Homo sapiens: one gene and its partners. The protein of the gene in region 3 purifies or fractionates together with the protein of the main gene of each other region. This does not show direct contact. Each region holds a gene or a part of one and is shown on either strand. Other genes may lie near its edges. The genes, in order: USP5, PSMC2, RAD23A and EEF1A1.

What was found.
Region 1: the proteins of RAD23A (region 3) and USP5 purify together in Homo sapiens (affinity purification with mass spectrometry; 2 studies listed by BioGRID, with this or other methods). This does not show direct contact.
Region 2: the proteins of RAD23A (region 3) and PSMC2 purify together in Homo sapiens (affinity purification with western blotting; 4 studies listed by BioGRID and IntAct, with this or other methods). This does not show direct contact.
Region 4: the proteins of RAD23A (region 3) and EEF1A1 purify together in Homo sapiens (affinity purification with mass spectrometry; 2 studies listed by BioGRID and IntAct, with this or other methods). This does not show direct contact.

Annotation. Positions count from the first base shown.
Region 1 is NC_000012.12:6,862,120-6,868,769, reverse strand, and holds the end of USP5 (ubiquitin carboxyl-terminal hydrolase 5), read right to left. Parts: intron 6,301-6,650; coding exon 6,212-6,300; intron 5,626-6,211; exon of another isoform or gene 5,585-5,625; coding exon 5,393-5,584; intron 4,941-5,392; coding exon 4,797-4,940; intron 4,721-4,796; coding exon 4,575-4,720; intron 4,049-4,574; coding exon 3,895-4,048; intron 3,607-3,894; coding exon 3,522-3,606; intron 2,787-3,521; coding exon 2,693-2,786; 3' UTR 2,138-2,692; downstream 1-2,137. Other genes in the region: TPI1 (triosephosphate isomerase), read right to left, coding at 1,089-1,314. UniProt on the Homo sapiens protein: Deubiquitinating enzyme that participates in a wide range of cellular processes by specifically cleaving isopeptide bonds between ubiquitin and substrate proteins or ubiquitin itself.
Region 2 is NC_000007.14:103,363,589-103,370,508, reverse strand, and holds the end of PSMC2 (26S proteasome regulatory subunit 7), read right to left. Parts: intron 6,367-6,920; coding exon 6,202-6,366; intron 4,434-6,201; coding exon 4,346-4,433; intron 3,097-4,345; coding exon 2,894-3,096; intron 2,797-2,893; coding exon 2,700-2,796; intron 2,613-2,699; coding exon 2,455-2,612; 3' UTR 1,114-2,454; downstream 1-1,113. UniProt on the Homo sapiens protein: Component of the 26S proteasome, a multiprotein complex involved in the ATP-dependent degradation of ubiquitinated proteins.
Region 3 is NC_000019.10:12,948,426-12,955,373, reverse strand, and holds the end of RAD23A (UV excision repair protein RAD23 homolog A), read right to left. Parts: intron 6,878-6,948; coding exon 6,822-6,877; intron 6,689-6,821; coding exon 6,561-6,688; intron 6,294-6,560; coding exon 6,215-6,293; intron 6,100-6,214; coding exon 5,966-6,099; intron 2,686-5,965; coding exon 2,521-2,685; intron 2,439-2,520; coding exon 2,325-2,438; 3' UTR 1,732-2,324; downstream 1-1,731. Other genes in the region: GADD45GIP1 (large ribosomal subunit protein mL64), read left to right, coding at 848-1,166. UniProt on the Homo sapiens protein: Multiubiquitin chain receptor involved in modulation of proteasomal degradation. Binds to 'Lys-48'-linked polyubiquitin chains in a length-dependent manner and with a lower affinity to 'Lys-63'-linked polyubiquitin chains.
Region 4 is NC_000006.12:73,518,006-73,527,642, forward strand, and holds the start of EEF1A1 (elongation factor 1-alpha 1), read right to left. Parts: upstream 3,028-9,637; 5' UTR 2,995-3,027; intron 2,052-2,994; 5' UTR 2,022-2,051; coding exon 1,878-2,021; intron 1,512-1,877; coding exon 1,332-1,511; intron 1,224-1,331; coding exon 927-1,223; intron 844-926; coding exon 693-843; intron 606-692; coding exon 349-605; intron 260-348; coding exon 25-259; intron 1-24. UniProt on the Homo sapiens protein: Translation elongation factor that catalyzes the GTP-dependent binding of aminoacyl-tRNA (aa-tRNA) to the A-site of ribosomes during the elongation phase of protein synthesis.

The DNA of each region.
Region 1 (6,650 bases), on a different chromosome or scaffold from region 3:
CCCTCTTCTTCTTGGTTCTGCTCTCCCCCTTTTCACCCCAGCAAGATGACCTTTGTCCATTTTCCAGCCCAGGCTGGGTCTGCACTCAACTCGAAGAGCCTTCCAGATACCCCTGAGAGGCCACGGCCCTCACCCTGCCCTCTGCTCTTTTAACAGCTGGGGCTCCAATTTCCTCGAGCTATTCTCGGCATAGGCACCTCACAGACTCAGCATTCTCCAGGGAGCAACCCTGCTTCCCTTCTAAAATAGCCCATCCTCACCTCCCCTTTGCAAGGCAAGGATTTGTAGCAAAAGGAGAGGGGCCAACTCCTGGGGTTTGTATTGAGGCCTCTGGGGAATGAACGAGAAGGGGATGCCTCTTTGGATCAGGCCCGCGGCTCTCCGATTTCGGTGGAGGGAGGAAGGAGGATGGAGGAGAGCATCCTTTGCCCGTGGGTGGCAGAGACCTAACTGACTCAGAGGCCTTGCGCTTTGCTGTTTCCAGGTTGGGGAAAGCGGTAGGATGGCTCCTCACTCCCAAATCGCTCAGCCTGTTTGGCACGGGCTCGGTCCCTTCCGTGGAAGGCGGGAGTCGTTCAGGTTGCCGAAGGGAAGGGGTCAGATCTGGGGCTCAGGGAGCCCGAGCAGCTCGGCGCGGGGACGCGGACGCCGGCGAGGAAGGGGAGGAGTCTGGGGCTACGTGCGGCGGCGCACGGCGCGGGAGGCCAGGGCGCAGGGAGCGGGAAGCCCACGCGGCCCAGCCTCCCCCGGTCTCCCGCAGAGCCTCGGGCTCCGCTCCTAACCCCGTCGCCTGGCGGGCACAGCCCCAGTGCGCGCCCCGGGGCCACCTTCCTCCAGGAGACCCAAAACGTCCTTACCTGCCCCATAGTCCAAGGGGCATCATGTGCTCCGCCCTGCCCCCTCGACGCACCGACGGGGCTGCGGCTGCGAGGCCCCTGCCCGGACCCCAGCGGCCCTCGTCCCACAGCCCTGCATCAGGTCCGCGCGGATACCGGCCTCGGGGCCTCGGGGCCTCGGGAGAGGGCGCTGCCACTCCTGCCCCGGCCCCGGCCCCGGCCCGGCCAGACCCCTCCTCGGCGAGGGCTTACCGGTGTCGGCCGGCACCTTGGCCGCGTTCAGAGTGCCGATGAGCTCCCCCAGACTCTGCTTCCGCCCGTTCATCTTCCAGTTTCCCCCAACGAAGAACTTCCTGGAGGGCGCCATGGCGCTGGAGCCGAGGCGCTGAAGGTCAGTGTCTGCGCGCAGTCGCGGCCACTGCCCACTTATATAGAGCGCCGCGAAGTGGAACTCCGCCTCCTCGCCGTCCTCCGCCATGGCCCGCCCAGTCCCCCGGAGCCCTGCCCCCCGCCCGCCCTCCTGCCGCCGCCCCGGCCGCCGCCCGATGATGCACTGTTCCGACGTTCCCCCTTCTTGTGGCAACGTTCTAGGAGAGTCGGGGGCTCGGTCGCCTCCGCCTCGATTGCGGGGCTTTCGGGACAAGGCGAGACCTGTGAGCTCCGGCGCTCAGGGGAACCCTCGCTTGGCGACTTGAGTCCCCCACGGGGCCAGAAGTGGTTTTCAAGCGGAACTAGCTGGTGGCAACTTGGCCGTAGCCCAGATCGCCCACTGGGGCAGAGAGGGCCCCTCTCCAACTGTGGGATAGACAACCTCCTTCGCCCATCGGAGCAGCTCATGCCCGACTGCTGAGCAGGCACCCTTGTACCCAGGGAGTCTACCTGAGTGAAAACTTGCGGGACAAATGCAGGGTTCACAGCGGGAGGGGCAGCCCACACAGGCATAGGCCGCCAGGATCATCCCAACCCTCGCCCCGGCTGGCAAGGCCTGGCAGGAACTGCAGGGACTGAGTCCCAGCCTGAAGCCAGCTAGCCAGTTAGGGACATTTGGGAAATCCTCCACTCCTGTGTGAATAAAGAGAGGGAAGGGTTCTTCACTCCATCTTTCCTTGGCTTTGTGTCGGCATTTAGTCACTCTACTCCACCTCCCCACCCAACCCCAATTTTCCTAGAGCTCTAGAACCAGTGAAAAGTGGAGACTTGACTTTGGCAGGGAGGCGGCCAGAGTTAGGAGTTTTCTTAAGCGCCCTCCTGCTAACCCCAGGAAGGTAAGCCTCTCCCCCAAGGTATCAAACAGGACACAATTTAGCCGTTGTACTTTTATTCACATCGTGTATTTTGGCATTTTCCAGAGAAGGACAAGGAAGAGACAGGGTGGGGGAAAGACTGAGGCAGGAGGGCAAGTCGGGGGGTCCCTATTTCCCTCACATCCCTCCTTGACCAACCACACAGGGGCAAACAAAGGGGGAGGGGAGGCACAGGTGATCGCTCCACTGGGAGAGGATGCACAAAGCTACACCCACGCGCACAAACGAGACCCCTCCCTCCACACCAGGGGGCTGGGCGGGGCGACACAGAGAAGCAGAGCACTGTGGATTCCGGGGGCAGGGGAAGCAACAAAGTCTCCTTACAGACAGGTGGCCGGCCCCTCCCGTCCCCGTCCTGCTCCATCCCCAGAGTCTATCGCTGCCCCTCTGCTCTGCCCAGCCATTCTCCCACGGCCTCCAGCTTCTTCCCTGCTGCCGGGGACAAAAGGAAAAAGGGTACAGAGCAGAGGGGCTGAAGTCCATCCCTCAGCCCCTCTCCCTCATGCCAGGTGGTCTTCCCCTGCCCTCATTGGTAAGGGGTGAGGCAGGCTCTTAGCTGGCCACTCTCTGGTAGAAGTAGATGTAGCCCAGGTCCTTGGGCGGCTTCTCGGAGGCACACACTTTCTGGTCATTGTAGATCACCCATCTGGGGAAGTGGGGAAAACAGAAAAGGATGAACAAACTGGGCATTCAAAGTGGCATCATGTAGTCTCTCAGACATGGCCCCTGGAAGTGCTCTCCACACTCTCTGCCCATACCCCAAATCCACAGCCCAGCCACCATGTGCCTTAAGGGAGCTTCACAACCTCACAAGGGTCACGGACCCTATTATGTCTTCAGATCCTCCAGTACCTTTACAACCACCCTCCACCCATTCCAGGGAGGCAGGGGGTTGGTAAACTTTTTCTGGCAAGGGCCAGATAGTATTTGAGGTTCTGCAGGCTCTCTCTCTGGTCTCTGACACAACGACTCAACTTTCCTGCCGCAGCGTGAAAACAGGCACAAACAACACATAAACAAGTGTGTCCAGGTTCCAGTGAAAATTTATTTACAAAGGCAGGGGGCCTGGCCAGGCACGGTAGCTCATGCCTGTAATCCTAGCACTTTGGGAGGCCGAGGCAGAAGGATCACTTGAGCTCAGGAGTTCAAGACCAGCCTGGGCAACATAGTGAGATCCCATCTCTATTTAAAAAAAAAGCTGGTGGCCAGATCCAACCCTTGGGCCAATCACTGCTGCAAGACCTTCTGTCACTCTCTGGCACTTTATGTCCCCATCAGGCAGTCCCTTCACCTTCTCCCATAGCTATCCCAAGGACTTCCAAATGGCCCTCCTCATTCCCACCACCATTCTCCATTCAAAACGCATGTGGCCAGCACTCACCTGCCTTCTTTCTTGATGTGGCAGACGTAGTGACCACACATGGTAGAGGTGCCCATGTGACTAATGAAGGCAAAGAGCTGATACTCTAGGAAAGGAGAGAGGGGGTCAGAGAAGGAAACAGAAGAGGAATGCTTGAGTGATGGCCCAAAGATCCAGACAACAGCTCAGACTCAGGACAGGAGTTTCAGGGAATGTGAGGCAGGTACTGGGCCAGAGCCTGTCTCCATGTCAGAGAACCCCACCCTCAGATGCCACGTTGAGGTGGAAAGAAGCCCCTGACTCCTGAGGAGGGCAGAGCTGCCTGAATGAGGGATCTGGTGTAGTAGACTGACCAGATTCCACCAGGCCTGTCCTGCTTCCTGGGGATACTCACTTCCAGGACCATCCCGGACTTTAGGTCCCACTGGCACAGACTCAGAGATGGAGTCGGCAGCTGAGCGGCCCTCTGAGATGTCCATGGCAGCTTCAGCATCCAGGTCGTCAATGTGACTGAAGATCCAGTCCACAGCCCGTTCTAAACTATTGTTCTTGGAGAGGAAGGAAGCATTACTTTTTTTCTTGAGACGGAGTCTTGCTCTGTCGCCCAGGCTGGAGTGCAGTGGCGCGATCTCGGCTCACTGCAAGCTCCGCCTCCCGGGTTCACGCCTTTCTCCTGCCTCAGCCTCCCAAGTAGCTGGGACTACAGACGCCCACCACCACGCTTGGTTAATTTTTTGTATTTTTCGTAGAGACGGGGTTTCACCGTGTTAGCCAGGATGGTCTTGATCTGCTGACCGCGTGATCCGCCCACCTCACCCTCCCAAAGTGCTGGGATTACAGGCGTGAGCCACCGCGCCCGGCCAAACAGAAGCATTACATTTTTAACAAGTTCTGGGGCAAAAAACCCAGCAGTGAACGCAGGCTTCAGCTCCTTCATCGCAGCCACAAAAGAGTGGTGCCCAACCTCGGCCAGACCACACCTGTTGTCTTTGGTCTTGCTCAAGAAGGATGGCCCCTCATTCCCACCCCCTTCTTCCCCACTGGCCCCATGTCCTTAGCTGGGGCAGCCCATACCGTGGCCCGCAGCGCTTTCAAGGCCTGGTCCCGGGAGAAGCCCATGGAGACAATGGTGGTCACACAGTCCTCAGGAGGGGGGTCGGCTGCTGCGCTTGTGGAGCCCGGCCCACTAGAGCCAGGCAGGATGAGGGGGTTTGCAAAATCTGTGGATGTGAAGGGGTTGATGTGTTTGGGGGAGGATGGAGGCCCTGCCCCACCCTGCTCCCCACCCCAGCCTACCTGGATCATCCATGTGTGACATGACCCAGTTCATGGCGGCCTCAGCCCCGCTGTTGCCCGTGTAGTAGACAGCTTTGCGGCAGGCGTCCATAGGGAATCCCATCTCCACCAGCTGGATGATGACTGATTCATCCAGCATGGGCGCTGTAATGGGAATTGTGGGTACACGGACCGACTGATTGGGCCACTGTTTGCTCCTCCTCCCTCCCCCAGGACCCAGCCCTCTTCCAATCACCCATTCCATGCATTTTTCTCCCATGGATTGGCACCTTATCCCAAAACCAAAATGACCACACAATTGTAATGTGGGTCCCTGCCCATTCTCACAGAATGGGCCCTGTTTCTGGAGCATGATACCCCCACCCTACCCAAACCAGGGAGGTAACAAGGGCAGAGAGGCCACTAGCTGGCACTGCTGCCATCCACACCCAGAAGGTGGCTAGGAGTGCGCTGGGGAGGCCCCATGTCAATCAAAGAGGGCAGAGGAAATTTGAAAGGGAGGACAGGAGAAACACAAAGGACAGGGGCAGGGGATGCAAGGCAGAGAGGCCCCCATCAGCACGGGAGAGAGACAGGCAGGAAGAAGAGTCACTAACATGTCGGAGAGGAGAAGTGAGGGGAGCAGAAGGAGTCTTCGTCTTCGTTGCCATAGAAACCAAGGCTACCTTTGGGCTCATCCGGAGTGACCAGGGGTGGGGCAATGTCTGGCAGCTCCTCCTCTCCGGGCTGCAGCCCTGTGCCCCTCAACTGGGAGATGTCGAGCTCCTCTGGCATCTCGATGGACACATCTGTGGGAAAAGGGTCACCTCAGCAGCTCCCGGAGGCCTACCTGGAAAGTGATTCGGGAACCTCAATCCCCTGCCCCCTATGTCAGAACTGCTCTGTAAAGAGGAGCTGCTAAAAGCACGGCACCCATCTTAGGGGTCCCAGTATAAGACAAATAATACTAAGCCTGGGAGTTGGGAGGCCAGGATGCTGGTCCTAGATCTACCATAAATAATCTATGGACAGGGCAGGGGGCCTAGAACTTGTGAGACAGAATGATTTTATATTCCTGTGAGTCTCAACTTCCTTATCTAGAAAATGAAGGTACATCACGAGTTCTCAAATGACAGTCAGGGACCTGTAAGACTCACGAGAATTAATTGTTTCAAGATTATCAAAATGAAAACATTTTACCAATTATTTTAAAAAACTACAAAAATCACTTTTGGTTGTAAATCATACCTATAACAATCAAAGAAGTCTTTTAATATTTTTAGTTAGTGCTTTCAAACTAGATAAATTTTGAAACATTGAAGGTGATTTTTTTTCCTCTTTCAGAGGAAACTTTGAGAAACACTAGTTTATATGTGTTAAAGCCCCTTCTTTTTCTAGCATTTTCTGTGTAACCTCCCTCATTCCAGCAGCCATACCCAGTTTCTTGGGCACCCAGTCTAAGCCGAAGGTGAACTTCTTGATCTGGATGACCAGGTAGTCAGGGAATGAGGCAAATCGTGTGGTCCTAGGGAAGAGAGACTGTGCTGGTACCCAGACAATCCCCAGGGTTTTCCTCTCCTGAAACTCCCACCTGGGGTTCAGCCCCTCATGGGTAGAAGTCCCAATAACCCAGAAGATCCTCCATATTCTTCTCTTCCCCTGGGCAGGTGTCTGATGCCTGTCCTCGGCCAACGAGGAGCAGTAGAGGCCAGAAGGAAGGCTGTCAACAAAAAAAAGAAAAAGAAAAAAGCCCAGGCATGGTGGCTCATATCTGTAATTCCAGCACTTTGGGAGGCCAAGGCAGGACGACTGCTTGAGCCCAGGAGTTAAGAGACCAACCTGGGCAACATAGCAAGACCCACACGTAGGGAAAAA
Region 2 (6,920 bases), on a different chromosome or scaffold from region 3:
GAGTGTACACTTTGAGAAAATGAGTCTGCTCTCTTGCGTGGATGAAGAAAAGAGAGGGTAGCAAACCTAGTGAATCTGTCCTGGGGTGGGTGGGTGTGTTTTTGTGTGTGTGTTGGGGGGGTGGGGGTGTGCCCTTGTGTGGGGATGAGGGAGGGAAGAGCAGGTGGTGGGGAAGGCTCTTTTATGTCTGCCCCTTTAAAGATAGTAAATCAATTTAAATTCTAAAATGAAACCGAACTTCCTTGGTGTGAGCCTGTATGCTTTACTGAGTGCAAAAAAATGCTATTGGTCCTTTTTAGTGCACCTTACCTTTCAGGAGTGCCTTTAGGATTCACGATGTTTAGATTCTTACTGTTTTGAATGCTCATAAAAGTTTGAGAACTATAAAAGTATTACTGAATTCTTCAAACATACAGCTAACCAAAATGCATGCAATGGTTTTGAAACCCCTCCAATCCCAGCAACACAACGGTAAAAGTTAGCACCACACCAGGTAACGTGCCTGCTTAGTGACTTAGATTTTATCAAGTTTGAGCATCTTAAAACTCCACCTGGCCTTTGAGAAAGCTGTACCAGGCTTTTCATTATACTGGTGTATTGCATTTCACTTTACGTAACAGATAAACCTCAGAAGCATCATGAAAACGGAGTTTTTTAATACACCTAATCACATTTTTAACACTAAGAAGTTTTTAAACAGGATTCTACGGTATATTTTTCTAAAGTCATAAATCCTTTGTATTCTAACTTATCAGCACCCTGACACATGTATATATATATATGTGCATCTACACACATGTATATAGACACATCTATTTTAGGTGGAGGAAGTTACTGGTAAATGTCTGTTTCATCTCTTTGAGTACAAACATGCTGACCTAGGCAATGTTGATGCTACCTGCATAAATATGCCTTGACAGAAAAACCCAAATTTTTAAAGTAGTTGATTTTACATTTGATGTGTGGCCGATTAGATTTTCCTTATGGACCTAAATTATCACGATAGTCACTCTGTATCGTTAGAACAGAGTGTGCTCAACATTATCTAATTCGAGTTGTCTTTAATTGGTATATATGAGCACGTGGCCATGACAAAGTGGAAAGACTTCAGAGTGTGTTCTAAATGTGTACATTTATTTAATCAAAACATTCAAAAACATACATCTTCAGTCATTTTCTTAAGTATATTTTATTGTAAGCATAACCTGAAAATAGTTTGCTCTATTTAATTCCTCAAGAAAAATTAGGGCAGGGTTAAAAAAGATGAATTTTTCTGATCAAGTTCATAAAAATGAAAAATCAAGAATGTTGGTTGGATTTTATAAAAGGCTTTAATTTCTTTACTTGAAAACTTTCATAATTTTAAGTATTTCAGTGCAAAGCAGCATTTTCTATGTTGTCAACTTTTTCTATTGTGAATTAAAAATATATCCAACTCTTATTTTGCAACTTATTTATGAATATCGAACTTCAATAAAAATATTCATTATTGTGCTTTGGTCTTGGCATTGGGGGAAGGGGTAATTGTGGTAGAAGATAGGATTTGGTGGTGGTTACACAGGAGGTAATTTTAAAGAGATGTTGAGGATTCTAATATAACCTTTATTTTTAAAATACCTCACTGTAGACCAGAAGCCTAACAGAAACTTTACCAAAATTTTAAAGTAATTTGTAAAATGAAAGTAATCACTTTTCTGTATGAAGCCAATTCTGGACTTTCTAAATTAGATCATATGTACAAATATTTTTTTTTCTTTTTTTACTAGTCTTTCACTTCTGGCTGAACATTTTTCTTTCTGCTTTATTGCACCACTTTACTGCTCATTAAAATCACTAATTCTTCCTGATTAATTTGAAATCAAATGGCAATGCAAAACATATACATCCAATGTTTCTCCTACTTTAAAAAAGCTTTGGCCAAAGCTTTTATTATTCAATATGGTGGTGGGAAACTATCATAATGCATGTGGTCATACGCCTAAGTGAGCTACTTTGTTGCGGGACAGAAGCGGATAATAGGAGCATAGGTAATGGAGCCAACAAACTTGTACTTGAAAGCCAGCTTTGCCACTACAAGTAAGTAGGAAAGTTTATGCATCCATTGGATGAAGATCCATTTGATAATCTTCCTCAGTGGACAGATGGGAGGATACAATGAGAATTTATATGTAGAGCACCCGGCCAGCATATGCCTAGGATAGAAGCCATCTAAGCAAGCGCTTTGTATGATGTGAAATCCTTAAACGGGTGTGGGTCAAAAAAATAGTCAAAATATATTCTAACAAGCTTTTCTGCCTAATAACATTAGAAATCACCTTTTATTATATTACAAGAAGAGATATGGAAAAAAGCATACAATTTTGAAGCCATTTATTTGTTTATGAATTGGTTATTAACAAGTCTATATAAGGTTAGGATTCCAATTTAAAGTTTTCACTTGAAAGCCTTCAGGGTTCAGTTGTATGTCATGTAACGAGGAGTAGCACTGAATTTGGCATAAGACTTAATGACCTTATTTACAGCTTCCAAGAAATCCTTCTCGGTAGCAATTTTTCGCCGTGCTCTGATGGCAAACATACCAGCCTCTGTGCAGACGCTTCTAATCTCAGCACCTTTCAAACAAAAAGAAAATAAACGGGCTTAATTAAAGCAGCCTGAGCAGACAGACCAGCAAATATAAGCAAGAACTTTCTACTTACCAGTGCTATTTGGACACAGTCGTGCTAACAGTTCAAATCTGATATCTCTTTCAACACTCATTGAACGAGCGTGAATCTTAAATATGTGGGTCCGACCCTAAAAATGAGAAAATTGACAAATATTAAAATGGAAAAAAATCACAGGAAGAAAAAACTTCAAAAATCCCTTTCCTAAAATGAAATGGTTTTCTTACCTCTAGATCGGGCAAGCTAAATTCAATTTTTCTATCCAATCTCCCTGGCCTCATCAGTGCTGGATCCAAAGTATCAGGTCTGTTAGTGGCCATCAGCACTTTAATATTGCCTCTAGGATCAAAACCATCAAGCTGATTGATCAGTTCCAACATTGTTCTCTGCACTTCATTGTCACCTCCAGCACCATCATCAAAACGAGCCCCTGAGAAGACAAAAGGAAAGATAAGCTCTTCAAGTCCACTCAAGAGTAGCACTATGCATGACCTGAAAGTACCAAAAATCTCAGCTCAAATCATGTCCTCAGGCACAAGTGACATCCCACTTTGAAGCAAATCCTGTAAGAACAGCTTGCTTTATATAAAACTAATTAGAAAGTGAATCTTTGCTTTCAAAAGTATTCATCACAGATTTACTTAACGTTTTTTAAACTGCCTATGGGGCAGTTTAGTGTTTTCAAAGTCTACCACATTTATTACTTAATTTGGACCTCTCAAAAACTCATGAAGTACACAAGACAACAATTATTCCCTTTATAAGATGAGCAAACTGAGGCTCAGAGATTAGTTAAAATAACTTGTCCTCAGGAGTTCGAGACCAGCCTGGCCAACATGGTGAAACCACGTCTCTACTAAAAATACAAAAATTAGCCAGGCATGGTGGTAGGCATCTGTAATTGCAGCTACTCAGGAGGCTGAGACATGAGAATTGCTTGAACCCAGGAGGCAGAGGTTGCAGTGAGCCAAGATCATGCCACTGAACTCCAACCTGAGCAACAGAGTGAGACTGTTTCTTAAAACAAAAAAAAAAGTCTAGATTTCATGGCTAATACTGTATTTCATCAAATCTGTGAAGCCAACAAGAACATTATTTTATGTGCACTAAGAAAAACCACCATCAATTAAATTATGCCCCAGTGCTTTCTTATGACATTAGATGATACTTCTCAATTTACGAGTTGTTTAAAGTATGGAAATAGGTGTTGTATGAATGAAATCAGATATAGACTGAGCATCCCAAATTTGCAAATGCAAAATCCAAAATGCTTCAAAATTTGAAAGTTTGAGCACCAACATGACAAAAGCAATACTCATTGGAGCACTTTAGATTTCAGGTTTTCAGATTTGGGATACTCAATCAGTATAATGCAAGTACTTCAAAAGCCAAAATCCAAAATATGTGAATTCCAAAACACTTCTCAAACATTTCGGCTAAGGGATATTCAACCCATAGCACAAAAATAAAGGCTTTGAAAAAATGACAATGGTATATAATGTGTCTTCTTGCCTTTATAGTTTAGCACTACTACTTATTAGATCTGTGGCGCCACTGTTTCAGAGCTCATAGAAGAGTTGGAGTTAAAATTCTGTACAAGATTAACATATCACGACATATCACTTTACAGCTTTCATGAAACTGAATCCTAAAGCAGTTCTCTAACGTATCATTCTCACCTCCAATAGCATCAATTTCATCAAAGAAGATAAGGCAGGCTTTTTTTGTTCTGGCCATTTCAAAGAGTTCACGAACCATTCGAGCCCCCTAATGAGAAAAATGATTTATTAATTCAAAATTGGTTTCAAAATATTTTAAAATAAGTAAAAAGTTATGCTTCAAACTTTTCAATATTTATTCCTAACAGTATTCTCACCCATTATTACCTAAACGTTTTTTATTTTTTTATTTTTTTGAGATGGAGTCTTCCTCTGTCGCCCAGGCTGGAGTGCAGTGGTGCGAGCTCGGCTCACTGCAACCTCTGCCGCCTGGGTTCAAGCGATTCCCCTACCTCAGCCTCCCGGGTAGCTGGGATTACAGGCATGTGTCACCACACCCCGCTAATTTTTGTATTTTTAGTAGAGACGGGGTTTCAGCATCTTGGCCAGGCTGGCATTGAACTCCTGACCTCATGTTCCACCCGTCTCAGCCTCCCAAAGTGCTGGGATTACAGACGTGAGCCACTGCGCGCAGCTATTTTAATTTTATTTTTTGAGACAGAGTTTCACTCTTGTTGCCCAGGCTGGTGTGCAATGGCACGATCTTGGCTCAGTGCAACCTTCGCCTTCTGGGTTCAAGCGATTCTCATGCCTCGGCCTCCCGAGGAGCTGGGATTACAGACATGCGCCACCACACCCGGCTTTTTCTATTTTCAATGGAGACGGGGTTTCTCCATGTTGGTCAGGCTGGTTTCCAACTCCTGACCTTAGGTGATCCGCCTGCCTCTGCCTCCCAAAGTGCTAGGATTACAGGCATGAGCCACCGTGCCTGGCCTATCTAAACTTTTTTTAAAAAAGACTGAAGTTTGCTCCCCAGTCCACCAAATTAATCTTGCCAGCCTTAAAATATTAAGTCATTTTCATGATTCTGTATCTATTAAATAGCAATAGGTTTCAGATCTGAAGAGGTCAAATTAATAGTTAAATAAAGGAACCATTCTAATTAGTAAAACTTGAGTAAATAAAAGCATCTGATCTATCACTTGGAATTCCTGATCATTGAATTTGACTTGCAAGTTTTAGTTAGGGAATAAAAGGATACCTCAACTCACGCAGCTCCGTAGCTAATTCTTATTGTAAATATACGAATCATCAACAGGTTTCAGATACAATACATATAGCCCTAGACTTATTCTCTAAATATATATATATATATATATATATATGTATGTCTACAAACATAAAAACAACCTATGTTCTCACTTTCTCATTAGGACTGAAAACACTGCCCCTGAAGTAAAAGTATACTTTTTAATTAATTTACCAGGCATTTCCGTAGAAAAGCCACATCTGTAGAAAATGTCACCCTTTTGAGGAGGGGGCATACTGGTTAAAATTTTAAGTGGTTGCCTATCTCCAAATGACCACAAAGGCAGCTTCTAAACTACTAATTACAATCAAGAAATTTCAGGTCTCAGGCCGGGCGTGGTGGTTCTTGCCTATACTACCAGCACTCTGGGAGGCCAAAGCAGATGGATCACTTGAGCCCAGGAGTTTGAGACCAGCTGGGCCACATGGTAAAACCCCTCTCTACAAAAAATAGAAAAATTAGCTGGGTGTGGTGGCATGTAGCCATGGTCTCAGCTACCTGAGAGGCTGAGATGGGAGGATCGCCTAAGCCCAGAGAGGTAGAGACTGCAGTGAGCTGAGATCATGTCACTGCACTCCAGCCTGGGCAACACAATGAGACTCTGTCTCAACAAAAGAAAAAAGAAATTTCAGGTCTGGATCCCTCAATGCAGAAGTGCCATTTTTAATTTCATTCATACTGTAAAATCTTTCACAAGGCTATATATTCTTTGATAAATTTACTTTACCTCACCGACGTATTTCTGTACAAGCTCAGATCCAATAACTCGAATGAAGCACGCATCAGTCCGATTAGCAACTGCCCGCGCACAGAGTGTCTTGCCTGTACCGGGTGGACCAAAGAGCAGCACGCCCTTGGGAGGCTCAATGCCAAGGTTCACAAACCTCTCTGGCTGTGATAGAGACACAATTTTCACACTTACCACTTCTGTATAACAAAAATCAGACTACTTCTAAATCAACAAAGTGCTTTTATGTTTAGTATTTTATCCTGAAAACCATACTTTAATATTTAAATCAAAATTATTAAGTCCACAATATACATACTTGAACTAAATAAGAAATTTTACTTATTCTAAGACATAAGTTCTAAACTGGACTTCTATCAATACATAAGACTAAATGGCTTTTAAAAAGCACTTCCATTATCCAGTCTTAAAATATTTTCCTAATTTAAAAAAAATTATGGTGTTTAAGGAACAAAATTATCTGGTATTCAGTATCCTAGTTTTCCATTATCCTCCCAAGTTTAACCTGCTTCAATTTAAGCCCCTTTCTTCTCGATGTCTTTTGAAGAACCAGTTTCTTCTATAATAGCCTGTAACATATTTAACATATTGCTAAAGGTTACACTGTGCCTCCTCTGTCACTGTAAACAGCAGATCTTTCTTTTTTAAATATACCTGACCACTCAATCCTTTTTGCTTGCTCTCCCCTAGAACTTACC
Region 3 (6,948 bases):
GGACTCCTGTTTCTGCCCCTCCTCAGCCAGATGACCATTATAGGGCTTAATTCTTTTACTTTTCTAATCCTTAAATGAGGCTGTCATAAAAAAGAACGAGATCATGTCCTTTGCAGGGACACGACGGGAGCTGGAGGCTATCATCCCTAGCAAACTAACACAGGAACAGAAAACCAAATACAACGTGTTCTCACTTGTAAGTGGGAGCTAAATGATGAGAACACATGGACACACAGGGGAGCAACACACACTAGGGCTTTTTGGAGGGTGGAGGGAGAGGATCAGGAAAAATGACCTCTAGGTACTAGGTTTAATACCTGAGTGATGAAATAAATCTGTACAAAAAAACCCCATGACACAAGTTTACCTACGTAACAAACCTGCACTTGTACCCCTGAACTTAAAAGAAAAAAATGGGGCTGTGACTGGTAGCTACAAACTCAAGGATTGGTGGGAAATGTCTTTCTTGCTTTCACTCCTGTGCCTAGAATTGGGCCTGGCCTCTGTACAGGAAGTGCTCAGCAATGTCTATGAAATAAAGGTGTGAAATTATCCATGGGAGTGGCACTTGGCTTGCTCAGTAGGCAGCTCAGTGAAATGCTGATTTGGCTTTGGCACCTGGGGTTTACTGGGGCTTGACATGCCCTTGTGATCAAATTCATGCACAGGTAACTTTCTCATCATCTCTTCCTGTTTCTTCACTTGTCAAGGGCTTTTCCTGACAGTTAATCTACTGGGGGAGTTGAGGAGGCAGGCTCGTGGGCAAAGGCCTATGGGTGAGATATGGGTGGGTGGGCTCTGCCCTGGCTGAGTGCCAGTGTCACAGCCCACTCTCCCTCCCCTGCAGGGAGCAGCACATCGCAGAGTGCATGGCCAAGATGCCACAGATGATTGTGAACTGGCAGCAGCAGCAGCGGGAGAACTGGGAGAAGGCCCAGGCTGACAAGGAGAGGAGGGCCCGACTGCAGGCTGAGGCCCAGGAGCTCCTGGGCTACCAGGTGGACCCAAGGAGTGCCCGCTTCCAGGAGCTGCTCCAGGACCTAGAGAAGAAGGAGCGCAAGCGCCTCAAGGAGGAAAAACAGAAACGGAAGAAGGAGGCGCGAGCTGCTGCATTGGCTGCAGCTGTGGCTCAAGACCCAGCAGCCTCTGGGGCACCCAGCTCCTGAGGCTTTGTCCCTTCCCAATAAAGCCTGCTACCTGGCAGTACCCCTGAAGAGATCTGCGTCCTCTCAAGGTGTGCCTCTCTGGGTCCCCTGGTTCCTCCCCCAATACTTAAGAGCTGGGGAATCCCCCACTTGGCTGTACTCAAAAGGGGACAGGGACTCTAGGCCCTGCTGACTAACTGGGGCTTCAGTGGGAGGAAAAGGGGGGTGTACAATGGGCAAATAATGGAGAAGCAGATGGCAGAAGAGAAGAAGGCTTCTGTTTACCAACATTCATCTCCAGTAATTAGCCAATTACAAGGCTGGTGGGGGGGGAAGTATAGCCAAAACAGACTGTGGTGATGATGGTGGGGGCCGGGGAGAAGCAGTCCTTGTAACGTTGGGCTGGGGTCCACTGCCTGGAAATGACACACTGGGGGAGGAGACACCGGAAGCCTCAATCTGCAGGGACTCACAGACTCCTCTCCCCCTTCCAGGCACCCGTCACCATGCCTGCCTGTGCCCAGCCAGCCCCCCAAGACCCAGACAGGTGGGCGCGGGGAGCCCCAGCAGGCACAGACCATAGGGCTAGTTTTTAAAACTTTATTCACTTCAAAACCTTTATCAGAGACACGGTTCTGTTCTGGGGTGGGGGTGGCCTTGACAATGAGCTGATGTTAGCCCTTCTCCAGGCTGGAGGCCAAGGCCAGACTGGGGAGGGGGCCTTGGGCCTTTCAGGACTTGCCCTAGATGGAAAGATTTGGGCCACTCCAATGGAGGATCAAAGTTGGGGCTCCAGCTTCCCCTCATCCTAGAAGAGGATGGGGGGGGGTCCTCAGGGGTTTTTCGGAGGATGGAGAGGCAAGCAGCCGCCTTTCCGTCTGGCTGCAGAGAGCTGGGACAGAGGCCAAGAGGGGCCCATCTGTCGCCTCCCAGTCCTGCCAGCTTCTCTGAGCAGGCTGGGCTGGGGAGGAGGACGGGGGGACAGCTGTCTGGCCCGGGAGATGGGAACAGGGGCCACTTTAGGAGGACAGGAAGCTGGACTGTTTGCTTGTTTTTTTAAGATTTTTGATTTTTTTTTCCATTTCTTAAATAAACATGAATATATATATATTTTTTCTTTTATAAAACTTTCATGGAATAAGGGTAGGGTGGGGGCTTCGGTGGCCTGGCTTCCTGGCATCACTCGTCATCAAAGTTCTGACTCAGGAGGAAGTTGGCAGCCAAGTTCTCATTTTTTTCACACGCGAAATAGGCCTGGATGACCAGGCTCTCTGGGAAGCCCAGGGCCTTCAACTGTGGGAAGATAGGTTAAGTGTGAGCAGGAGAGGGTAGGGGTCCTGCCCACCTGCAGTCACCCCTCAGCCAGGCCTCTTACCCTCTCTATAGCTTCTTTCTCCTGCGGCGTCACCTGGATGTAGTTCATCTGCGGGGCCTCCTCTCCTATGGCGCCCACCTCCCCCTCCACATCTGAGATGTCCGCCAGCTCCCCAGGGGGCTCGTTCAGCATCTGGATGAACTGCTCCTGGTGCCGGCTGATTTGCTGCAGGAGAGGGTGGGGAAGGGAAGGTAATTCACAGCCCTGGTCCCCTCCTCTCCCCAGGTCATCACAGCCCTTGCTTTTTCATTCAGTCAGGCAAATATCCAGAGGAGCCTGTTCTGGCCAAACACAACATAGCAGTCGACACAAGCCCTACCCTGGAAGAGCTGATGATGTGCTTTTAAGTGAGCCAAGAAATAAGCCGGGCACGGTGGCTCACACCTGTAATCCCAGCACTTTGGGAGGCAGAGGCAGGTGGATCACTTGAGGTCAGGAGTTCGAGTCCAGCCTGGCCAACATGGTGAACCCCCATCTCTACTAAGAATACAAAAAGTAGCCAGGTGTGGTGGCAGACGCCTGTAATCCCAGCTACTTGGCAGGCTGAGGCATAAGACTGAACCCAGGAGGCGGAGGCTGCAGTAAGCCACTGAACTCCAGCCTGGGCAACAGAGCAAGACCCTGTCTTGAATAAATAAATACATAAATAGGCTGGCTGCAGTGGTTCACACCTATAATCACTTCAGGTGATTCTAGACCAGCCTGGAGTTCGAGACCAGCCTGGCCAATATGGTGAAACTCCGTCTCTACTAAAATACAAAAATTAGCTGGGTGTGATGGCACGTGCCTGTAATCCCATCTACTCAAGAAGGCTAAGGTAGGAGAATCACTTGAACACAGGAGGCAGAGGTTGCAGGGAGCCGAGACTGTGCCACTGCACTCCAGCCTGGGCAAGAGACTCTCAAAAAATAAGTGAGTGAGCCAATAAATGAACCAGACAACTGCAAGTGTCTGGCTAGGAAGGAACTGCAGATGAGGGCTGGTGGAGAGGCCTGCAGTATGGCGGATGCAGAGGGTTTCCTCCAGGTAAAGCAAACAGCAAGTGCAAAGGCCCAGGGTGGATGCATCTGGGAAGTCTCAGAAACAGAAGCAGGAACAGAGTGAATGGGGCTGGGCACGGTGCCTCATGCCTGCAATCCCAGTACTTTGGGAGGCTGAGGCAGGCAGATCACTTGAGGTCAGGAGTTTGAGAGCAGCCTGACCAACATGGAGAAATCCCATCTCTACTAAAAATATAAAATTAGCAGGGCGTGGTGGCACATGCCTGTAATCCCAGCTACTCTGGGGGCTGAGGCAGGAGAATCTCTTGAACCCAGGAGGCGGAGGTTACGGTGAGCTGAGATCACGCCACTGCACTCCAGCCTGGGCAACAAGAGCGAAACTCCATCTCAAAAACAAACAAACAACAACAACAAAAAAAACAAAAAACAGCGAACAAGGGAAGGGGGAGGAGGCAGACAATGACACCAGAGAGGAAGGCCCAAGTCAGACCCATTTTCTAGAGCAGGGGGAAGCCACGGTGGTGACAGTTACATGGGAAAAGACGTGGTCTGTGGATCTTTTAGAAAGGTGAACTTGGCCGGGTGTGGTGGCTCACGCCTGTAACCTCAACAATTTGGGAGGCAAGGCAGGAGGGACTGCTTGGGCCCAAGAGTTCAAAACCAGCCTGGGCAACATAGACCCTGTCTCTATTCCCACCTACCAGCCCCCAAACCAAAAAAAGTGAACTCATCTGGGTGTTGGATTTAGGTATCTGGAAGTTCATTTGTTCATTTTTGTTTCTGTTCTTTTTGAGACACTCTCACTCTGTCACCCAGGCTGGAGTGCAGTGGGGCAATCTCGGTTCACTGTAATTTCTGCCTCCTGGGTTCAAGCGATTCTCCTGCCTCCACCTCCTGAGTAGCTGGGACTACAGTGGCCTGCCGCCATGCTCAGCTACTTTTTGTATTTATAGTAGAGACGAGTTTTTGCCATGTTGGCCAGGCTGGTCTAAAACTCCTGACCAAGTGGTCTGCCTGCCTTAGCCTCCCAAAGTGCTGGGATTACAGGCATGAGCCACTGTGCCCTACCTGGGTATCTGGAAGCTCTGATATAACTCTACCATTGTATGCATCTGATCATTTTCACATTAAAGAAGAAAGTGCTTTTCAGTCAGCCAGGTGTGATGGCTCATGCCTGTAATTGCAGCACTTTGGGAGGCCAAGGCGGGCAGATCATTAGGTCAGGAGATTGAGACCATCCTGGCTAACAGGGTGAAATCCCATCTCTACTAAAAATACAAAAAATTAGTCAGGCGTGGTGGCGGGCGCCTGTAGTCCCAGCTACTCGGGCGGGGGCAAAAGAATCGCTTGAACCCGGGAGGCGGAGGTTGCAGTGAGCCGGGATTGCGCCATTGCACTCCAGCCTGGGCGACAGAGCGAGATTTCCTCTCAAAAAAAAAAAGAAAAGAAAGTGCTTTTTAGTCATCTGCCTCATGGTTGAAAAGTGGACTGTGGGACTATGCAGTGGCAGAGGCCCAGGAAGAGGCTACCAGAGAGCTGGAGTGCAGGGAGGGGCTGAGTGGGAAGAGCAGACAGGACAAGGGGTAGACCCCAGCAGATCCCCAGGGCCTGGGGCTGAAGCAACCCCAAGCTAATCCTTGCAGAGATCGGGGAGGACTGGGGAGGTCTGTTCTAAGTCTTAGACGTCTAGTCTAGGGAGCACTTTGATGGAGAGTTAATTAAGCCAGCCATGGAGTGTGGCATTCAGAGAGGCCTGGGCTGGCTACATAGATTTGGGGGTTCCCATACAGACTGAAGGCCCCAGGACACTATGAGGGAGGGCTGAGTGCAGATGAAGAACACGACCGACCAGGAGGAGCTGGCAAGGGACTGAGAAGTGAGAGGAGAAGGGTCAGACAGCAGGGTCCTGAGCCAAGACCGGTAGGCACTTCACCGAGAACCCAGAGGAACCTACTTGCACCCAGGGGGCCACTCCCCCACTCTTCCTGTGAACCTTCAAGGGCAAGATGGAGCCTCACTGAGCAGAGTTGTCCCAGAGCCAACTGGGGCACAGCTGTCCTGGGTGACGTCATGCCACCTTACAGACATTTACGCAGCACCATCTGTATGTGAAGCCAGAGCCCCAGCCCAGGACCCCACCCCGAGGCAGGAGGCAGACACACACACTACCAGCTGCGTGACCCTGGGAATGACAGGCTGCTCTAAGTTTCCGGTGTCTTCTTCTGTGGGAGGTGATGTTGACAGCACCCACACCTTACAAGGTGGTTGGGAAGACTGAGAAACCAGGGGGGTCACCAGGTCACAGGAAGCACAGGGGCGTGGGGGAAGCATGTGCTTAGTCCTGCTTTCCGGACCTAGAACGATTCCTACGTGTTATGGACTCTGGTGCCCACAGGGAAGGGAAATGGTGGCTGCCCTAGCTCCCTCTGCCCTTGGGACCACACCTGTAAAAGCTGAGGGTTCTCCTGGCCCAGCTGCTGGAGCAGGGCGGGCAGCAGCGCAGGGTTCTGCTGAATCACCTGCCGCATGTTCTGGAACTGGGGCTGGTCCCGCAGGAACTCCAGGGGGTTCTCTCCTGCTGGTAGTAGGAAGGGGTGCAGTCAGACACCACGCCGGGCTCCTAGGAGCACTGCGGGGTGGAGTGTAATGTGAGTCAGGTACCTGGAGGGCAGATGCGGCATGTGCACACCCACCTGCTTCCGTGGCCGGCTGCTCCGATACCTGGCTCTCCTGGACAGAACCGTGTTCCGGCTCGGGGCTCCCAGGAATTCCCTGTCAGGGGTCCTGTTTAGTTCTAATGCACAGACCTCCTGCTGCCACCCTCCTCCATGCCCTGGCAGGACACAGATGAGGCCTCGGCCCTGCCCTCCAGAGGCCCACCCATCACTCACATCCAGCCTCCTGTGGGAAGCCTTTAGTGGCTAGAATCACTACCCAAAGGCTTTTCAGGGCAGGTTTTGCCTTCCCAACCGCCCATCAGGGCAGTGACGCCCGGGTACTCCCTCAAGGCCTCCCCGGGAGGCGGAAGCCCCACCTCACCGTGAGCAGATACTCCACGGCTCGGTGGGGGTTGTTGTAGCTGGCTCTCAGGGCGGCCACGACCCGCTCTCGCTCATAGCCCATGGACATGATCTCCGTCAGCATCGTCTCATACTCAGAGCCCGTCACTGTGGAGGAAGCAGCAAAGCCTAGGTCACCAGGAAGAGGAAAGGGCAGCTCCCAGGCCCTCCCGCACCCAGACAAGGCCCAGCTGATGGCTGGGGCACCCAGTCACCTCTGCCCTGGGGACCACCCACCCACCTAGCGTGGAGGCCGCGTCTTCCTCTCGCCCGCTGCTACCTGAAGAGGGAACAGAGCTGCAAATTCAAGAGAGAGAAATCGGACCCTGGCTTCTGGCGGCTTGCCCTCCCTCCAGGTGTGTGGGACC
Region 4 (9,637 bases), on a different chromosome or scaffold from region 3:
TTACATTTAAGTAGTCATCCTTACCCAAAGGTGGATAGTCTGAGAAGCTCTCAACACACATGGGCTTGCCAGGAACCATATCAACAATGGCAGCATCACCAGACTTCAAGAATTTAGGGCCATCTTCCAGCTTTTTACCAGAACGGCGATCAATCTTTTCCTTCAGCTCAGCAAACTTGCATGCAATGTGAGCCGTGTGGCAATCCAATACAGGGGCATAGCCGGCGCTTATTTGGCCTGGATGGTTCAGGATAATCACCTTGGAAAAAAGATTTGCATTCAGTGCAAATCCAAAGTCTCAAATGACTTTAGCCTCTGCAATAAGTTAATGTTACTTTAAATTGTTACCTGAGCAGTGAAGCCAGCTGCTTCCATTGGTGGGTCATTTTTGCTGTCACCAGCAACGTTGCCACGACGAACATCCTTGACAGACACATTCTTGACATTGAAGCCCACATTGTCCCCAGGAAGAGCTTCACTCAAAGCTTCATGGTGCATTTCGACAGATTTTACTTCCGTTGTAACGTTGACTGGAGCAAAGGTGACCACCATACCGGGTTTGAGAACACCAGTCTCCACTCGGCCAACAGGAACAGTACCAATACCTAAAAATATTTACAGCATACTAAATACCTATGAAGGCAGACAGTACTCTATCAACTCAAATTCAACTTTGTTTACAGCCAACTTACCACCAATTTTGTAGACATCCTGGAGAGGCAGGCGCAAGGGCTTGTCAGTTGGACGAGTTGGTGGTAGGATGCAGTCCAGAGCCTCAAGCAGCGTGGTTCCACTGGCATTGCCATCCTTACGGGTGACTTTCCATCCCTTGAACCAAGGCATCTGAAACACAAGCATGCCAATTTGTGTAAGCATGAAATCGCCATTCCCAGAGCTTTTTAACAATGGTCTTGAAAGCCACTTACGTTAGCACTTGGCTCCAGCATGTTGTCACCATTCCAACCAGAAATTGGCACAAATGCTACTGTGTCGGGGTTGTAGCCAATTTTCTTAATGTAAGTGCTGACTTCCTTAACAATTTCCTCATATCTCTTCTGGCTGTAGGGTGGCTCAGTGGAATCCATTTTGTTAACACCGACAATTAGTTGTTTCACACCCAGTGTGTAAGCCAGAAGGGCATGCTCTCGGGTCTGCCCATTCTTGGAGATACCAGCTTCAAATTCACCAACACCAGCAGCAACAATCAGGACAGCACAGTCAGCCTTTAAAGAAAGCAAAGACATATCCCTGTCAACTCTCCAAATGACAAAACCAGTGTACAAAGCAAGCCTTTTGGGATAAAGAAACCTAGAATTATTAATCCCACCAACCTGAGATGTCCCTGTAATCATGTTTTTGATAAAGTCTCTGTGTCCTGGGGCATCAATGATAGTCACATAGTACTTGCTGGTCTCAAATTTCCACAAGGAGATATCAATGGTGATACCACGTTCACGCTCAGCTTTCAGTTTATCCAAGACCCAGGCATACTTGAAGGAGCCCTTTCCCATCTGTAAGGATTAAGAGTCGTTACTTGGTTACTAAAACACAAACTCCAGCTTCAATTTCCTTGTCCCCAGCCCTTAATTGGCAGTTTCCACTTTACAACTCCAAGTCCAAAGTGATTTTAGTCACTTTGGGTTACAGAAGCAACCAAAAATCAAACTTTTATAAGTCGGATCTTAACTATTAACATCCAAATCTACTCACTAGCAATACGATTACAGAAGTCACCAAAAGCAAAATTATTTCATAAGTAAGGTCTTAACTATTAGCATTCAGATCTAAACCACTCACTAGTTCTGGGGAAATCACCTAATGATTCTGCTGGTAAAACTCATTTTAGTTGATCTTTCCCTTTCTGGTATTAAACATACCTCAGCAGCCTCCTTCTCAAATTTTTCAATGGTTCTTTTGTCGATGCCACCGCATTTATAGATCAGATGGCCAGTAGTGGTGGACTTGCCCGAATCTACGTGTCCAATGACGACAATGTTGATATGAGTCTTTTCCTTTCCCATTTTGGCTTTTAGGGGTAGTTTTCACGACACCTGAAATGGAAGAAAAAAACTTTGAACCACTGTCTGAGGCTTGAGAATGAACCAAGATCCAAACTCAAAAAGGGCAAATTCCAAGGAGAATTACATCAAGTGCCAAGCTGGCCTAACTTCAGTCTCCACCCACTCAGTGTGGGGAAACTCCATCGCATAAAACCCCTCCCCCCAACCTAAAGACGACGTACTCCAAAAGCTCGAGAACTAATCGAGGTGCCTGGACGGCGCCCGGTACTCCGTGGAGTCACATGAAGCGACGGCTGAGGACGGAAAGGCCCTTTTCCTTTGTGTGGGTGACTCACCCGCCCGCTCTCCCGAGCGCCGCGTCCTCCATTTTGAGCTCCCTGCAGCAGGGCCGGGAAGCGGCCATCTTTCCGCTCACGCAACTGGTGCCGACCGGGCCAGCCTTGCCGCCCAGGGCGGGGCGATACACGGCGGCGCGAGGCCAGGCACCAGAGCAGGCCGGCCAGCTTGAGACTACCCCCGTCCGATTCTCGGTGGCCGCGCTCGCAGGCCCCGCCTCGCCGAACATGTGCGCTGGGACGCACGGGCCCCGTCGCCGCCCGCGGCCCCAAAAACCGAAATACCAGTGTGCAGATCTTGGCCCGCATTTACAAGACTATCTTGCCAGAAAAAAAGCGTCGCAGCAGGTCATCAAAAATTTTAAATGGCTAGAGACTTATCGAAAGCAGCGAGACAGGCGCGAAGGTGCCACCAGATTCGCACGCGGCGGCCCCAGCGCCCAAGCCAGGCCTCAACTCAAGCACGAGGCGAAGGGGCTCCTTAAGCGCAAGGCCTCGAACTCTCCCACCCACTTCCAACCCGAAGCTCGGGATCAAGAATCACGTACTGCAGCCAGGGGCGTGGAAGTAATTCAAGGCACGCAAGGGCCATAACCCGTAAAGAGGCCAGGCCCGCGGGAACCACACACGGCACTTACCTGTGTTCTGGCGGCAAACCCGTTGCGAAAAAGAACGTTCACGGCGACTACTGCACTTATATACGGTTCTCCCCCACCCTCGGGAAAAAGGCGGAGCCAGTACACGACATCACTTTCCCAGTTTACCCCGCGCCACCTTCTCTAGGCACCGGTTCAATTGCCGACCCCTCCCCCCAACTTCTCGGGGACTGTGGGCGATGTGCGCTCTGCCCACTGACGGGCACCGGAGCCTCACGCATGCTCTTCTCCACCTCAGTGATGACGAGAGCGGGCGGGTGAGGGGGCGGGAACGCAGCGATCTCTGGGTTCTACGTTAGTGGGAGTTTAACGACGGTCCCTGGGATTCCCCAAGGCAGGGGCGAGTCCTTTTGTATGAATTACTCTCAGCTCCGGTCGGGGCGGGTTGGGGGGGGTGGTGACGGGGAGGCCGCCTGGAAGGGACGTGCAGAATCTTCCCTCTACCATTGCTGGCTTAGCTCCAAAGGTTGTATTGAGATTAGGGTGTACCTTCGCCTCTCAATCAGCCTCCCGTCCTCAGCCTTGCCATCTCGCTAGTCCGGGACAAATCCCTAGAGCGTCTTCCTCTGCGGGTCTCAGCCCAGCCCGGGGTTGGCTCCTCCTCCGCCCCGGCTTCCGCGCCCCTCCCGTGTGGCAAGGAGTACCAGGCCCGGGGACCCCGAGGGGCTTGGGGCGAAGGGTCGGGACTGGGGGCCTCCTTAACGGCTCACGGACTTGCGAGAGGTTCGGCTCGATGGCCGTGAAAGCGACGAATCCGCTCCTGTGCTGGCCTCTTGGCTCCTTCCATTCAAAGCCAGCTGCTTTTATGGAAGCCCGTAACACGTCATCTCCCCCTGGTACTCCAGATGTCCAGGCTTTCAGTTTAGAATAGACTCAGTCCTACAGTTAGCTTTAGATCTAATTCTAGTTTTGTTACGCCAAAAAGTTCCTGCGAGTGTGTGTGTGTGCCTCATGGTACTTTTTAAATTAAAAGGTGTACAGTTATTTGATTGCAAACATAAGGAACCTAAAATGCTTTCAGATTTTCCACATGATCTCATGTAGAGGCTAAGATCTACAGCATCAGCAAGTTTATCCACCCAGTTTCCTAACCCCAACACTTGCTATGAAGTCACAGCTTCTCCTATTTAAATAAGTGCCTATTATATTTAAATAAGTGCTGTCGTTTTCTGTCATCCTATCGATTGTAACTGCATTTTAGCATAAATCTAGGGCAAGATTGGATGAGCTTGGCCTTTTTGGATGGCTATCAAGGCAGGCCTTGGGAAATGCTCCTCTGAGGAAAGAAGAACGTTTATTTTTAATGAGCTAATTACTAGATCATTATGTTTCTTCTTCCAGCTGTAGAATATCATTGCCCAGCTTCTCGAACAAACTTATTTATTAACAAGTATTTGAGAACCTACTATGTGGCCAACGCTAAGTACTGTGGAGTTCCTTCTGGAGAGGAAACCACAATCAAATTGGAAGAGGAAAACAAGTTGGGAAGCAGTTGAAGGCAAACGCTATGGTGCTTTCTTGGTTTCTGTATCTTTGTAGTGTAGTTTTTCTAGTCCTTTCAGTTTTCACAGTCCACTTTTTTTTCTTTCTTTCTTTTTTTTTTTTTTTTTTGAGACGGAGTTCTACTCTGTTGCCCAGGCTGGAGTGCAGTGGCGCGATCTCGGCTCACTGCAAGCTCTGCCTCCCGAGTTCAAGCGATTCCTCCTGCCTCAGCCTCCCAAGTAGCTGGGACTACAAGCGCGCCCCACAAATTTTTGTATTTTTAGAAGAGACGGGGGTTTCACCATGTTGGCCAGGCTGGTCTCGAACTGCTGACCTCAAGTGATCCACCCGGCTCGGTCTCCCAAAGTGCTGGGATTACAGGCGTGAGCCACGGTGCCCGGCCACAGTCAAAGTTTTTCCTCAAGCCCCTGTGATTGCGGATAATAGTAAACGCTTTATAAATACCTTACACAGAATGTTTTTTAAAATATCACGCAAGGAATGACAAAATTACATGAATCCTTGATTTATACCTAAGTAACATATTGTGCAACACAGACTGGGTGTTCTGAATGTTGCGATAGTGGCCGAGACTTTCATTAGGTGAAGGGAGATCTCAATTCTCGCGTTTAAGAACCAACACTGGACCGGGCGCGGTGGCTCACGCCTATAATACCAGCACCTTGGGAGGCCGAGGCGGACGTATAATTTGAGGCCAGGAGTTCGAGACCAGCCTGGCCAACATGGTGAAACCCTGTCTACTGAAAATACAAAATTAGCCGGGCGTGGTGGCGCATGCCTGTAATCCCAGCTACTTGGGAGGCTGAGGCAGGAGAATCGCTTGAGCCCGGGAAGCGGAGGTTGCAGTGAGTCAAGATCACGCAATTGCACTCCAGCCTGGGCGACCGAGTGAGACCTTGTCTCAAAACAAAACAAAAAACCAATACCTTTGAGCCCATCGGAGCCATATTATTGTGCGTTAGGGGTAGTCACTGGCCACGAGCATTTTCTCAGGGCAGAGATCACATTTCTGCTCTCAGTGGGGCCGGGGTGGGCCGGAAGCCGGAGAGGGACTGGAACGCCGGTCCGGGGAAGCCCCGCGCGCACCGGGGCGCACCCTGCTTCCTAGGGAGGGAGGCTGGGGCGGCAAGGCGGGCGCGGGTGGTCCTTGCCCCGCGCCAGCTCGCCAGGCCACGTCGCTGGCGTTTTTCCAGCGCTGGGTCACCTGCGGGCCGGCGGGTTCCCGCGGCGAACAGCTGGGTGGTATGGATACGCCGCTCGAGCCTCCGCAGCGTCAGGTCGCCAGGGTCCGCCCTGCCACTCGCCCCACCTTGAGGTAACTTTTCTTCCGCCTTCTGACTGCGGAAGGAAGGGCCTGGGAGGAAGCAGAAAACCTCACGTGGCTCGGGGTGAGGGTCGGTTTTTGTCACCGTGAGCTGGCCTCTAAAAGACTTTTTAAGTCCCAAGTCTTCTTTTTCTTCTTATTTTAAATCCCTTTTTCCCCAGACCCTATGTTTTCAACATAATCATAACGGATTCCCCGCACCCCTACGCCTTTACAGAGATCCAGTATGCTTTTTACTGCCTTAAATGTTAAAGCGGTAACAGTAACGATGTTGAGGCTCGTAAATGTGTTTTGGGGTCATAATCTAAGGTAGTATTTGCTGAAGATTTTTCTTAAACTTGCTCATAACCATTTAGAGTGACAAACTTAAAATACATTGTAAGTAAAAATCAACATGACCCCTTTTAGGAAGAAAAACAAAGATTTCAGTTATTTACATAGGAATAAGGCAAACAAGAATAGTTCTTTGAGGTACTTAATTGTGATTCACCAAGCTTTCAGTATAGTCTGACCACTCTGCTATTAGTCTAATTTAAAGCAGCCTTAAATAGTTACATTTTACCATGGCTTGCCACGTGAAAATGATTTTTAAATCTTTTCATCTGCTGTAGCTACCTCTGAAGAAAAGATGATGGCCCGGTGCGGTGGCTCACGCCTGTAATCCCAGCACTTTGGGAGGCCGAGTCAGGCGGATCACCTGAGGTAAGAGTTCGAGACCAGCCTGGCCAACATGGTGAGACTCCCGTCTCTACTAAAGATATAAAAATTAGCCAGGCTTGGTGGTGTGCACCTATAATCACAGCTACTTGGGAGGCTGAGGCAGGAGAATTGCTTGAACCCGGGAGGAGGAGGTTGCAGTGAGCAGAAATCGTGCCACTGCACTCCAGCCTGGGTAACAAAGTGAGACTGCATCTCAGAAAAAACTATATATATATATATATATATTTTTTTTTTTAAAGGGGTATTTTAGAATATGATTAAGCCAAGGAACTATTTGGACTGAGAATCCAATTTTTTTTTTTTTTTTTTTTTTTGAGATGGAGTCTCACTCTGTCACCCAGGCTGGAGTGCAGTGGCACGATCTCGGCTCACTGCAAGCTCCGCCTCCCGGGTTCATGCCATTCTGCCTCAGCCTCCCGAGTAGCTGGGACTACAGGCGCCGGCCACCACACCCAGCTAATTTTTTGTATTTTTTTTAGTAGAGATGGGGGTTTCACCATGTTAGCCAGGACGGTCTTGATCTCCTGACCTCGTGATCTGCCCAACTCGGCCTCCCAAAGTGCTAGGATTACAGGCATGAGCCACCACGCCCAGCCGAGAATCCAAATAAAATGACACTTTAGTGTGACAGGCACTGTTCTAATATTTGCAATATTTATTGTAATCCTACCACCCACATTGTATAGATGGAGCAGCAATGGGCAACAGGCAGTTTATGCGTAATAAGCACATATAGACATATATTCTTTTTTAAAGTTTTACCTTTTTTTGCACAAAATGGTAAAATACAATATGCCACCTTGCTTTTTTCACCTAATACAGCTTGGTGATCTTTTTTCATGGTACCTTAGGGCCCAGCAGAGCAGGATTGGAACCAGGGTAATCTGTCAGAGAGCTAGTCCTAACCCTTACCAGCAGGTCGAGGCAGCCTGATATAATGAAAATATCAGTGGCATCGGTGTCAGAAAATTAGGGATTTAGTCCTCGCTCTTCTGCTTAGACCTATGACAGCCCAGCAGTTCTGAGTACATCTGTGAAATGGGTTGCCTCTTTGTTCCTACTTAACACCTATGTCACAATTCTAATATGCAATGACATGAAAAGACATGGGGGCTCTTTATTAGTACAAAAGACAGTGTTTCTACATGCTTTTTGGAGAATGCCTGTCCTTAATTGGTATGCCTGTGACACCAACTTGAGTCAGTAGAGAAAATAAACTCATTGGTATCTTTGTAATTGTAAGCATTTTTACGTAGGTAATACATGTACATGGTAAGAAATTGTACAGAGGTTATACAATGAAATGTTACTCTCATTTTAGCAGTGTAAAGAAAGTCTGAAGAATACTCCAGGAAAATTGAGGAAACTAAAGCTATTTCTACTACTGGTCTCATAATTGCAAAGCCAGTGCCTACCATGATAAGTGCTCTCTTACTTGGTATGAAGGAAATGATTTTCTTCCCTTGCTATTTTTTTTAGTAAGTATATTATTTTATTGCTACATTAGAAATGAAAATACACTCTGAGAAGCTGCAAAGGCATGCAACTTCATAAAGATTATGAAGCAATGGAGACACTCATAGAAGGTTAAAATTGGCTTTTCCTGTAGGAGGTGCAAAGACTATACACACACAGGTCATCAATGGTTAGATTATTGGCAGCATCTGCCATGTGGAATTTATGTGCCAATGGGAAGATTTTTGGTGTTTTGCTTTGTTTTGTTTTGTTTTGAGACGGAGTCTTATTCTGTCACCCAGGCTAGAATACAGTGGCATGATCTTGGCTCACTACAACCTCCGCCTCCCGGGTTCAAGTGATTCACCCGCCTGAGACTTCCATGTAGCTGGGATTGCAGGCATACACCACCATGCCTAATTCATTTTTTTCTTTGTTTGTTTGAGATGGAGTCTCACTCTGTCACCCAGGCTGGAGTGCAGTGTCATGATCTCAGCTCACTGCAACCTCCGCCTCCCGGGTTCAAGCGATTCTCCTGCCTCAGTCTCCCGAGTAGCTGTGACTACAGACATGTGCCACCACACCTGGCTAATTTTTGTATTTTTAATAGAGACAGGGCTTAGCCATGTTGGCCAGGGTGGTCTCGAACTCCTGACCTCAGGTGATCCACCCACCTCAGCCTACCAAAGATTACAGACGTGAGCCATCATGCCCAGCCCCCATTATATGATGTTTGAACACCGTATTTCTCCTGCTGGATAGTTTCCTTGGAAGAAAGCCTATTTTTTTCTCCAGTGTTAGTTTTCTTCAATTTTGACCTGTCAAACTTCACTTCTGACAAGTTTGGGTTTATCACTCATCTTGATTAAAAGAAAGCCTGAAGGCTTGAAGACTCGTGAAACGCTGGGCTGAGACCATACTGCTCACTCTGGACCAGATTAGGGTTCCTGAGCAGAGCCCAGCAGTTGTAAGCCCAGTAGCAGGGCCCCCTCACTCAGTATTCATTTGTGAATCCATATTTTATAAATCATATGAATTTTCAGTATTTCTTTGTCTTCATAGGTGATATAGTTAACAGAGCACTTGACTAAGAGACAAGCTGGAATATATTCGTAGTCCCACATAATTTCTTTATCAGAGTGATCTTGAATAAATCACACTTGAGCTCATTATTTCTTTTTTTTATTTTTATTTTTTGAGATGGAGTCTCGCACTGTCACCCAGGCTGAAATGCAGTGGTGCAATCTCCGGTCACTGCAACCTCCGCCTCCTGGGTTCAAGTGATTCTTCTGTCTCAACCTCCCAAGCAGCTGGGATTACAGGCGCCCACCACCATGCCTGGCTAATTTTTTTGTATTTTTAGTAGAGACGAGGTTTCACTATGTTGGCCAGGCTGGTCTTGAACTCCTGACCTCATGATCTGCCCTCCTCGGCCTCCCAAATTGCTGGGATTACAGGCATGAGCCACCACGCCTGGCCTGAGCTCATTATTTCATAGTAAAATAATCTAACATCTATTTCATAGAATTGATCATAAGGATTAAATAAGATAATGGACCAGATGATGCAAACCATTTTTACAAATGTCAGCGCTCATTATACTTAGAAAATAATCATTAGCGC